Linked DNA regions of Homo sapiens. The protein of the gene in region 1 purifies or fractionates together with the protein of each later gene. This does not show direct contact. Each region holds a gene or a part of one and is shown in the gene's direction. Other genes may lie near its edges. The genes, in order: TEX13B, ARID2 and ARID1B.

Region 1 (3,660 bases):
CACTTAAAAATTATTTACAATGATCAGCTGTTACTGGGAGAAACATTTTTTTTCAATTTTGAAAAACATAACACGTTTATTATAAACAATTTTACAATAGAGAAAAATGTCAAGAATATTTTTTAAAGTACTGTATTCCTATTACCCAAAGATAACCACTGTTAAAGTGTTAGTATATAACTTTCCAGATTTGTGATGTATGCATACATATAGTTAGTTATATGCTCTTTGTAACAAGCGAAATTAGAGAAAAATGTATTTTAAAGTTAAAAACTTTTTTTCTAACCTCCAGTCCAACCCCACTTCCCAGAGATAATTAATGTTGAGTCTGCTATATATCCTCTCTCATTCTGTTCTCCAAGATTATAGAAACATACAAACATATGCAAACACACACATACACACAAATACGGGATCATAGAAAACATTACTCCTACAACTTTACATGCCCTTTTGTCATTGGCCATCATCATAGATCCATAGGTAGAAACAGATTCAGTTACAGTACAATGTCATGTAATACGTAGCAACGCTGGACTCAACCTGAGATTTGTCTGATTTATCTTGTGGGTCTCAGAAAGTCATTCAAGGTTTTCTTGTTTTTGTGTTTGTTTGTTTGAGACAGAGTCTCACTCTGTCACCCAGGCTACAGTGCAGTGGTGCGATCTCGGCTCACTGCAACCTCCGCCTCGTGGGTTCAAGCGATTCTCCTGCCTCAGCCTCCCGAGTAGCTGGGACTACATGCGCGTGCCACCACATCTGGCTAATTTTTTGTAATTTTAGTAGAGACGGGGTTTCACCCTGTTAGCCAGGATGGTCTCGATCTTCTGACCTCGTGATCCGCCCATCTCGGTCTCCCAAAGTACTGGGATTACAGGCATGAGCCACCGCGCCCGGCCGAAGGTTTTAAGAGACATATTCATATCCCTCTGATGGAAGATCTCTGATATTTCATGTTTTGGTAAAAAGGTGTATTTATGCTACTCCTAACTCTCTTTCTCCCACAGTTGCTTCAAGATTCAAGGCGTTTCAGTAGGGGAGGAGTGGGAGAAGGGGTGATGGGAGGAGTGTGGGGAAAGAGGAGCTAAGGGAGGAAAGGCAGGCCAGGATTTGTTAGGGTGTCTGGGATGTTTAGTCCTGAGCAAACAGGGGATAAGCTCCGCTCCTGGCTCCACCCTCTTCCTCCAAGGGCAACTGAGGGGTTGGGGCTGTTTCCTGCTCTAGAATATTCCAGTTGGGGGCGAAACTCCCCTGGCATGGCACAAACCATTATGATGGGGAGGGATAAGTCTTCAACTTGTTCACAAATACTTTTTTTGGTCCTAAGTCCTTCCGGACCACTCCTGTTTCTTTCAGCCTTCAAGGTCTCCCGACCATGTGGCAGGTTCCCTTTTGTCCCAGTGGAATGGCAGAGGCCTTCCTCACTCACTCCCTTTCACCCCTACAGTCTCTGGAAATTGGAACAGTCCCAGAGTAAAATCCTCATGGGTTGGCCCTGAGGCTTCTTTTCCCGCAGAGCCCTAGGAGGGAAAGAGGCCACCCTCTCTTCAGGCGTGTTAAGCAGCGGGGTTGGCCTGTACTTCCTCTGGCCCTGGCTGAAGAGGTGAGGCCTGGTGGGAGATGTCCTAGGGTAGGACAAGCCGGTCAGAGGGTCATTAGGAGGGTCTTGTCAGAGGTGGGAGGGCGGAGAAGACAGATGAGGGGAGGGGCTAAGGAGGAGGAAAGAAACCTATTGGCTGCTCCATCCACACAGGGCTAGTGAAACCGTTAAGCCCCTAGGCGATCATGGCCTTGAGACCTGAGGACCCCAGTAGTGGGTTCCGGCACGGAAACGTGGTGGCCTTCATCATCGAGAAAATGGCCAGGCACACGAAAGGCCCCGAGTTCTACTTCGAGAATATATCCTTATCCTGGGAGGAGGTGGAAGACAAGCTCAGGGCCATCCTGGAGGACAGCGAGGTGCCCAGCGAGGTCAAAGAGGCCTGCACCTGGGGCAGCCTGGCCTTGGGTGTGCGCTTTGCCCACAGGCAGGGGCAGTTACAAAACCGCAGGGTGCAGTGGCTGCAAGGCTTTGCCAAACTGCACAGATCAGCTGCGCTGGTCTTGGCCTCAAACCTGACGGAACTCAAGGAACAGCAGGAGATGGAATGCAATGAGGCGACCTTCCAGTTGCAGCTAACCGAGACCAGCCTTGCGGAGGTGCAGAGAGAGCGGGACATGCTGAGATGGAAGCTCTTCCATGCCGTAAGATCCCCCGAATGGTCCCTGTCCAATGCCTCTGCCCTGCCCCAACCTGTCCGGACCCCCTGCCCTGTCCCCAGAATGTGTTTCAGCTCTGCCTACTTCTCTCCAGGAGCTGGCACCTCCCCAGGGACAGGGCCAGGCTACAGTGTTTCCAGGCCTGGCCACTGCCGGAGGGGATTGGACAGAAGGAGCAGGTGAGCAGGAAAAGGAGGCGGTGGCTGCTGCTGGTGCTGCTGGAGGAAAAGGAGAGGAGAGGTATGCAGAGGCAGGGCCTGCCCCCGCAGAGGTCTTGCAGGGGCTGGGAGGAGGCTTCAGGCAGCCCCTCGGAGCTATTGTAGCAGGCAAATTACACCTTTGCGGGGCAGAGGGAGAAAGATCTCAGGTCAGTACAAACAGCCATGTCTGTCTTCTCTGGGCTTGGGTCCACAGTCTCACTGGAGCCTCTTCCTGTCCAGCTCCCTACCTCATTCACATACTCATACCCATGCCCTTTGTCCGCCTTCTCAGCCATACCCAATATACCCCCTTCACCAGCAAAGGTCACAGAACGGGTTCCAACTCAGATGCCTTTCAACTGGGGGGCCTCTGATGCTAGCCTGTGGTCAGATGTGGAGGCCCAGGGAATAGACCCTCAAGAGCCCCCAAGAGACAGGAGAGACTCCGAACTCCATCAGCAGAGAAGACCTCCAGTATATCGCAGGCCAGGGAACTGGGACTGCCCGTGGTGTAAAGCTGTGAATTTTTCATGGAGGGAAAATTGCTTCCTCTGTGGGAGGCGAATCTGGCTGCAAAAGCCTCAGTAAATTCAGAAATGTAAAATAGAACAGAAATATATCTCAATGGGAAATCAATCTTCAGGGGGAGAGGGGAGAGGTGGGAGGGGGATTGGGTGGAGTGGGGGAAAGGGGATGAGTGGGAAGATTGGACAGTAGGGGGGCGGGGAGGCGGGGTTGTGGGTGGGAGGATGTAGATGACAGGCAGGGAGAGACATGTTTTAATGACTCCATTTGTATTTCAGAGTATTAGTAGTCAACACTCCAGAACTACTGCAGTTTTTATTTGTGTGTGTGTCTCTAGCTCCCTATCTTAAGTATCTGTCGGACCTGGGCAGTATGTAACACCTACACTCTCTCCCTTCATGTAGGCTTTAGATAATTGGAGCAGGAGTGGATATTTGACCAATCCTGAGCCAAATGAATTTTTACGTTAGAAAATCTGAACAGACAGGCAGATTCCACAGTCAGAATAGTGTTGGGCAATGAAGCAGTGGGTCACTTGGAGTTGGGGCCAGGGTCACAGCCATGGACACCAAGGCCATAGCTGAGGCCTGGCCCTGGCTGTGGGGGAACAGAACTGGATGCTTTACAGAGTCAAGTGTCTTTTAGAGGACGCCAGTATGAGGTTTCAGGGAGCAGA
Region 2 (3,653 bases), on another chromosome or scaffold:
CAAACTGCTCTTCTGCAGTCTAGACAGGTTGCTCTCTGGACCTGGTACACACCTCTTCTCAGGAATTACCTCCATGTTGAATCCCTTTTCGTTGAAACCCATTTATTTTCTTTTCTTGTTTTACTCTCTTCATGCAAAAGCATATCCTTCAATCATTTAAGACCCTACATGCCTAAAAATGTCTGTAATCTACCCTTACTCTTGATAGTTGTTGGCTGTACATAACATTCTAGATTGAAAAATCATTTTTCTTTAAAAACCTGAGGGCATTGCTTTGGTGTATTCTAGCACCAGCTTTGCTGTTGAGAAGACTAGTGACATTCTGGTTCCCATTTCTTTGTATGTGATCTGTTTTCCCCCCTCTAGAAACTGTTGTGATCTCTTTATTTCTGAATATTCTGAGGTTTCTTGATGATGATGTGTCTTCGGTGGGTGTTTTGTTGTTGTTTTCATTGAAGTCATTATTTCATTTTGGTGGGTCCTTTCAATCTGGAGATTTATATCCTTCAGTAATGGGAACTTTTCTGGTATGTTTCTTTTTCTTTTCTCTTTTAGCTTTCTGTTTTCTCTCTGTTTAATCTATTTTTTGGAAATTTCCTTAATTTTTTTTTTTTTTTTTTTTTTTTTTTTTTTTTTGAGACAGAGTCTCGCTCCGTTGCCCAGGCTGGAATGCAGTGGCACGATCTTGGCTCACTGCAAGCTCCACCTCCCAGGTTCACGCCATTCTCCTGCCTCATCCTCTGGAGTAGCTGGGACTACAGGCGCCCACCACCATGCCCCGCTAATATTTTGTATATTTAGTAGAGACAGGGTTTCACCTAGTTAGCCAGGATGGTCTCGATCTCCTGACCTCGTGATCCGCCCTCCTCAGCCTCCCAAAGTGCTGGGATTACAGGCATGAGCCACCACCCCCAGCCGGAAATTTCCTTAATTTTTAAGAGCTTGTTATTGGTTGCCAGTTGTTACTATTTTATAACATCCTGTTCTTAGTGGTGTCTTCTCATCTCTCTGAGGATATTAACACCTCTACTTTTGTAGTTTTTTCCCAATCTGTGTATGGTTACTCTTTCCTTGTAATTCCTCAAATTTCTGAGGATTTGGGGGTTTGCTTATCCTCCGCCCCCCAAGACAAGAGTCTTGCTCTGTTACCCAGGCTGGAGTTCAGTGGGGCCATCATGGCTCACTGCAGCCTCCAACCTCCTGGGCTCAAGTGATCCTCCCACCTTAGCCTCCTGAGTAATTGGGACCACAAGCATATGCCACCATGCCCAACAGTTCATTTTTTAATTTTCTGTAAGGTGGGGGGTGGGGGAGGGTGTCTCACTATATTGCCCAAGCTGGTCTTGAACTCCTCAACTCAAGTGATCCACCTGCCTCGGCCTCCCAAAGTGCTGGGATTACAGGCGTGAGCCACCACGCCTAGCAAAAAATAAATTTCTTTTACCCTTCGTACTGTTTTGAGGAGGGAATGGAAAGAAACTTGTTTAAACTTGTTTTCTTAGAAGCTGATTTGTATCCTAAATGGTTTTTACTAGTGTTGCTTAGAAATTATTTTTATTATCTGTTAAGGATATTAGAGTGACCCAATATTTATTCTTTGTTAAATCATCTCAAAAAACTAACATGTGAATTTAGAAGTTGAAAGAATATCATTTTATAAAAAAACAAATTAGGCATGTTTTGTTTTATATCAAAACAAAGTGAGTGCTTAATTTTTTAAAACCTCAAAAAATTAAACATTTATATCAAAAAGGAAATTATTAGTTACTTTAAAATCATCCTAGTGATTTCAGTTTATTCTTTCTAGTTTTATCCATGCAATATTCAAATAAAAGAATACTTTTTAACATGTGACTATCACTTTGAAAAATATGATTTTGTTAACTTTTTGAAACTAAAGTCTTTTTTCTTTCTTTGTTAAAATATTCATTGATTGTGGGGAAAAACTGATTGTACTTTGTAAAGTTATTTTTATTTTGTAAATTTTTTTTTTTTTTGAGATGGAGTCTCGCTCTGTTGCCCAGGCTGGAGTGTAGTGGTGCAGTCTCGGCTCACTGCAACCTCTGCCTCCTGGGTTCAAGCGATTCTCCTGCCTCAGCCTCCTGAGTAGCTGGGATTAGTAGCCTCCCAAGTAGCTCCTGCCACCACGCCCAGCTAATTTTTTGTATTTTTAGTAGAGATGGGGTTTCACCATGTTGGCCAGGCTGGTCTCGAACTCCTGACCTCGTGATCCGCCTGCCTCAGCCTCCCAAAGCGTTTTGTAAATTTTTAAATCAATTTTTGTACAACTAATTTTTCTTTTCCAGAAAGATCTTAGAAATTTCATACTTTATTTTAAAAGTTGTTAAATAAAATTTTAAAGAAAATCATAAAGATTTTATAAAACAGAAGTGTAAAGTTCAGTGAATTATCACAAACTGAACCACTCATATAACTATCTGTCCAAGTTAAGAAATAGAGCAATATCAGTTGAAATCTTTCATGTTCTCTCCAATCTTTACTCCATCCTCCTCTCTATAAGGGACCACTATCCTGATCTGTGACACCAGAGGTTCATTTTGCCTGATTTTGAACTTTCTATATGTGAAATCATACAATATTATTTTCAGCATTATATTTTTGAGATTGATTCATGTTGTTGCATGATAGTATTTTATTCATATTATTGTATTTTTTTCTCTGCTTTTGATGGGCAAATGGGTTATTTCCAATTTGGGGCTATTAAGAGTAATGCTGCTATAAACATTCTAAACCATATTCTGTTTTTTGGCCATATACGGAACATATTTCTGTTGAGTGTTTTCAAAGGATTGGTGACTCATAAGATGTTAAAAGTTTGCTACATGATGCCAACCAATTCCAAAATGATTTTATCAATTGACACTCTATAGAAATGTATGAGAGTCTCAGCTACTCCATGTACTTGCCAACATTTGGTATTGTAATTAAAATGTTTAATTTTATCCACTCTTTTGAGTGTGTGATGGTATGTATATATGGAAACTACATAAAACTGAAATGGCCCAAAAAACATGAAAAGATGCCCAACTGTTTATTCTTCAGTCTCATTTTTTGCTCATTTCTTTTCCTTTGCTTTACTATAGTAAAAGTGACTCCAGTCCCTACATTAAATTTTGATTTTGAATTTTTGCATCTTTTCCATAAACTTCTTTTCTACAGTGTTTTTTAATTCAAAATGTACGTGTCTTCATCTTCTCTTTTTTTCTCCTGTAGTTTCTTTTATTCGGAGTTATTTTAATGAAGGCACCAAGGTTCCTGGGTAATCTCATGCTGGCTGATATTTTTTTTTAACATTTAATATAAAATTTTTCACACATAGGCAAATTTGAAATGTTTGCAATGAAATTTTTTATACCTGCCACCTAGCTATTACCATGAATATTTTAGTATACTTGCTTTATCACATATCTGTCCATTTATCCATCCCACAGTTCTGGGTGATTTTTACCATTTTTCTCAGCCCCCAGCATCCCTTTTTTTTAGCTAGATGATGCTCACTTTTATAATCTCTCATTATATAGATAGCCACATCAATATTGTGATCTTTTGGGTAGAAAATTTAAGATTGATAAGTTTTTAGAAAACAGCTTTTATGGCTAATGGGGCATTTAGGATATAGTTAAGCTAGATGT
Region 3 (3,753 bases), on another chromosome or scaffold:
GAGACTTGTGCTGGAGACCCTCTGTAAACTCAGTATCCAGGACAATAATGTGGACCTGATCTTGGCCACTCCTCCATTTAGTCGTCAGGAGAAATTCTATGCTACATTAGTTAGGTACGTTGGGGATCGCAAAAACCCAGTCTGTCGAGAAATGTCCATGGCGCTTTTATCGAACCTTGCCCAAGGGGACGCACTAGCAGCAAGGGCCATAGCTGTGCAGAAAGGAAGCATTGGAAACTTGATAAGCTTCCTAGAGGATGGGGTCACGATGGCCCAGTACCAGCAGAGCCAGCACAACCTCATGCACATGCAGCCCCCGCCCCTGGAACCACCTAGCGTAGACATGATGTGCAGGGCGGCCAAGGCTTTGCTAGCCATGGCCAGAGTGGACGAAAACCGCTCGGAATTCCTTTTGCACGAGGGCCGGTTGCTGGATATCTCGATATCAGCTGTCCTGAACTCTCTGGTTGCATCTGTCATCTGTGATGTACTGTTTCAGATTGGGCAGTTATGACATAAGTGAGAAGGCAAGCATGTGTGAGTGAAGATTAGAGGGTCACATATAACTGGCTGTTTTCTGTTCTTGTTTATCCAGCGTAGGAAGAAGGAAAAGAAAATCTTTGCTCCTCTGCCCCATTCACTATTTACCAATTGGGAATTAAAGAAATAATTAATTTGAACAGTTATGAAATTAATATTTGCTGTCTGTGTGTATAAGTACATCCTTTGGGGTTTTTTTTTTCTCTTTTTTTTAACCAAAGTTGCTGTCTAGTGCATTCAAAGGTCACTTTTTGTTCTTCACAGATCTTTTTAATGTTCTTTCCCATGTTGTATTGCATTTTTGGGGGAAGCAAATTGACTTTAAAGAAAAAAGTTGTGGCAAAAGATGCTAAGATGCGAAAATTTCACCACACTGAGTCAAAAAGGTGAAAAATTATCCATTTCCTATGCGTTTTACTCCTCAGAGAATGAAAAAAACTGCATCCCATCACCCAAAGTTCTGTGCAATAGAAATTTCTACAGATACAGGTATAGGGGCTCAAGGAGGTATGTCGGTCAGTAGTCAAAACTATGAAATGATACTGGTTTCTCCACAGGAATATGGTTCCATTAGGCTGGGAGCAAAAACAATGTTTTTTAAGATTGAGAATACATACCTGACAACGATCCGGAAACTGCTCCTCACCACTCCCGTCATGCCTGCTGTCGGCGTTTGACCTTCCACGTGACAGTTCTTCACAATTCCTTTCATCATTTTTTAAATATTTTTTTTACTGCCTATGGGCTGTGATGTATATAGAAGTTGTACATTAAACATACCCTCATTTTTTTCTTTTCTTTTTTTTTTTTTTTTTTAGTACAAAGTTTTAGTTTCTTTTTCATGATGTGGTAACTACGAAGTGATGGTAGATTTAAATAATTTTTTATTTTTATTTTATATATTTTTTCATTAGGGCCATATCTCCAAAAAAAGAAAGAAAAAATACAAAAAACAAAAACAAAAAAAAAAGAGGGTAATGTACAAGTTTCTGTATGTATAAAGTCATGCTCGATTTCAGGAGAGCAGCTGATCACAATTTGCTTCATGAATCAAGGTGTGGAAATGGTTATATATGGATTGATTTAGAAAATGGTTACCAGTACAGTCAAAAAAGAGAAAATGAAAAAAATACAACTAAAAGGAAGAAACACAACTTCAAAGATTTTTCAGTGATGAGAATCCACATTTGTATTTCAAGATAATGTAGTTTAAAAAAAAAAAAAAGAAAAAAACTTGATGTAAATTCCTCCTTTTCCTCTGGCTTAATGAATATCATTTATTCAGTATAAAATCTTTATATGTTCCACATGTTAAGAATAAATGTACATTAAATCTTGTTAAGCACTGTGATGGGTGTTCTTGAATACTGTTCTAGTTTCCTTAAAGTGGTTTCCTAGTAATCAAGTTATTTACAAGAAATAGGGGAATGCAGCAGTGTATTCACATTATAAAACCCTACATTTGGAAGAGACCTTTAGGGGTTACCTACTTTAGAGTGGGGAGCAACAGTTTGATTTTCTCAAATTACTTAGCTAATTAGTCTTTCTTTGAAGCAATTAACTCTAACGACATTGAGGTATGATCATTTTCAGTATTTATGGGAGGTGGCTGCTGACCCACTTGAGGTGAGATCTCAGAAGCTTAACTGGCCTGAAAATGTAACATTCTGCCTTTTACTAACTCCATCTTAGTTTAATCAAAGTTCAATCTATTCCTTGTTTCTTCTGTGTGCCTCAGAGTTATTTTGCATTTAGTTTACTCCACCGTGTATAATATTTATACTGTGCAATGTTAAAAAAGAATCTGTTATATTGTATGTGGTGTACATAGTGCAAAGTGATGATTTCTATTTCAGGGCATATTATGGTTCTCATATTCCTTCCTACCTGGTGCACAGTAGCTTTTTAATACTAGTCACTTCTAATTTAAACTTTCTCTTCCTGGGTCATTGACTGTTACTGTGTAATAATCGATTTCTTTGAAACTGCTGCATAATTATGCTGTTAGTGGACCTCTACCTCTTCTCTTCCCTCTCCCAATCACAGTATACTCAGAATCCCCAGCCCCTCGCATACATTGTGTCGGTTCACATTACTCACAGTAATATATGGAAGAGTTAGACAAGAACATGCAGTTACAGTCATTGTGAGACGTGACTCTCCAGTGTCACGAGGAAAAAAATCATCTTTTCTGCAAACAGTCTCTCATCTGTCAACTCCCACATTACTGAGTCAAACAGTCTTCTTACATAACAATGCAACCAAATATATGTTGAATTAAAGACCCATTTATAATTCTGCTTTAAATACATCTGCTTGCTAAGAACAGATTTCAGTGCTCCAAGCTTCAAATATGGAGATTTGTAAGAGGGAATTCAATATTATTCTAATTTCTCTCTTACAGAGTACAAATAAAAGGTGTATACAAACTCCGAACATATCCAGTATTCCAATTCCTTTGTCAATCAGAAGAGTAAAATAATTAACAAAAGACTGTTGTTATGGTTTGCATTGTAACCGATACGCAGAGTCTGACCGTTGGGCAACAAGTTTTTCTATCCTGATGCGCAACACAGTCTCTAGAGACTAATCCAGGAAGACTTTAGCCTCCTTTCCATATTCTCACCCCCGAATCAAGATTTACAGAAGCCCACGAAGAATTTACAGCCTGCTTGAGATCATCTTGCCTATAAACTGAGTTATTGCTTTGTCCTAAAAATTAGTCGGTTTTTTTTTTTCTATGAGGCTTTTCAGAAATTTACAGGATGCCCAGACTTTACATGTGTACCAAAAAAAAAAAAAAGATAAAAAATAAAGGTGCAAAGAAAGTTTAGTATTTTGGAATGGTGCTATAAAGTTGAATCTGTTGGTATTTGAGTGGATTTTTTTAATGTCACATAAGAGATACTGGGCGGCGTCTGCTCAGCAATAGCTATTCACAGTGTTTTGTTCGAGGAAGAGAATGATATAGAAGCATGTTTTACTGATGAAGGTGGCCTGTTCAAAGACTAGTTAAGCTGTTTTTTCAGAGTTATAATGAAGAATGATTTTTTTAAGGGCATATGGGCAGTCTCATACAATGTAAGCTATTAACTACCTCCTTTATGAAAAGAAGCCAGCCTTTGCCCTGAAGTCCATCCATTTAAAACTGTTGGAAATCTTTCATTTCCTATCAAACCACATGTACCTGTTCCCATGTCTGTTCACCTTTGA

The links.
Region 2: the proteins of TEX13B (region 1) and ARID2 purify together in Homo sapiens (affinity purification with mass spectrometry; one large-scale study listed by BioGRID and IntAct). This does not show direct contact.
Region 3: the proteins of TEX13B (region 1) and ARID1B purify together in Homo sapiens (affinity purification with mass spectrometry; one large-scale study listed by BioGRID and IntAct). This does not show direct contact.

The regions. Positions count from the first base shown.
Region 1 is NC_000023.11:107,980,253-107,983,912, reverse strand, and holds TEX13B (testis-expressed protein 13B), read left to right. Parts: upstream 1-1,542; 5' UTR 1,543-1,603; intron 1,604-1,753; 5' UTR 1,754-1,785; coding exon 1,786-2,244; intron 2,245-2,353; coding exon 2,354-2,833; 3' UTR 2,834-3,049; downstream 3,050-3,660.
Region 2 is NC_000012.12:45,900,553-45,904,205, forward strand, and holds part of ARID2 (AT-rich interactive domain-containing protein 2), read left to right. Parts: intron 1-3,653. UniProt on the Homo sapiens protein: Involved in transcriptional activation and repression of select genes by chromatin remodeling (alteration of DNA-nucleosome topology). Required for the stability of the SWI/SNF chromatin remodeling complex SWI/SNF-B (PBAF).
Region 3 is NC_000006.12:157,207,378-157,211,130, forward strand, and holds the end of ARID1B (AT-rich interactive domain-containing protein 1B), read left to right. Parts: coding exon 1-514; 3' UTR 515-3,402; downstream 3,403-3,753. UniProt on the Homo sapiens protein: Involved in transcriptional activation and repression of select genes by chromatin remodeling (alteration of DNA-nucleosome topology).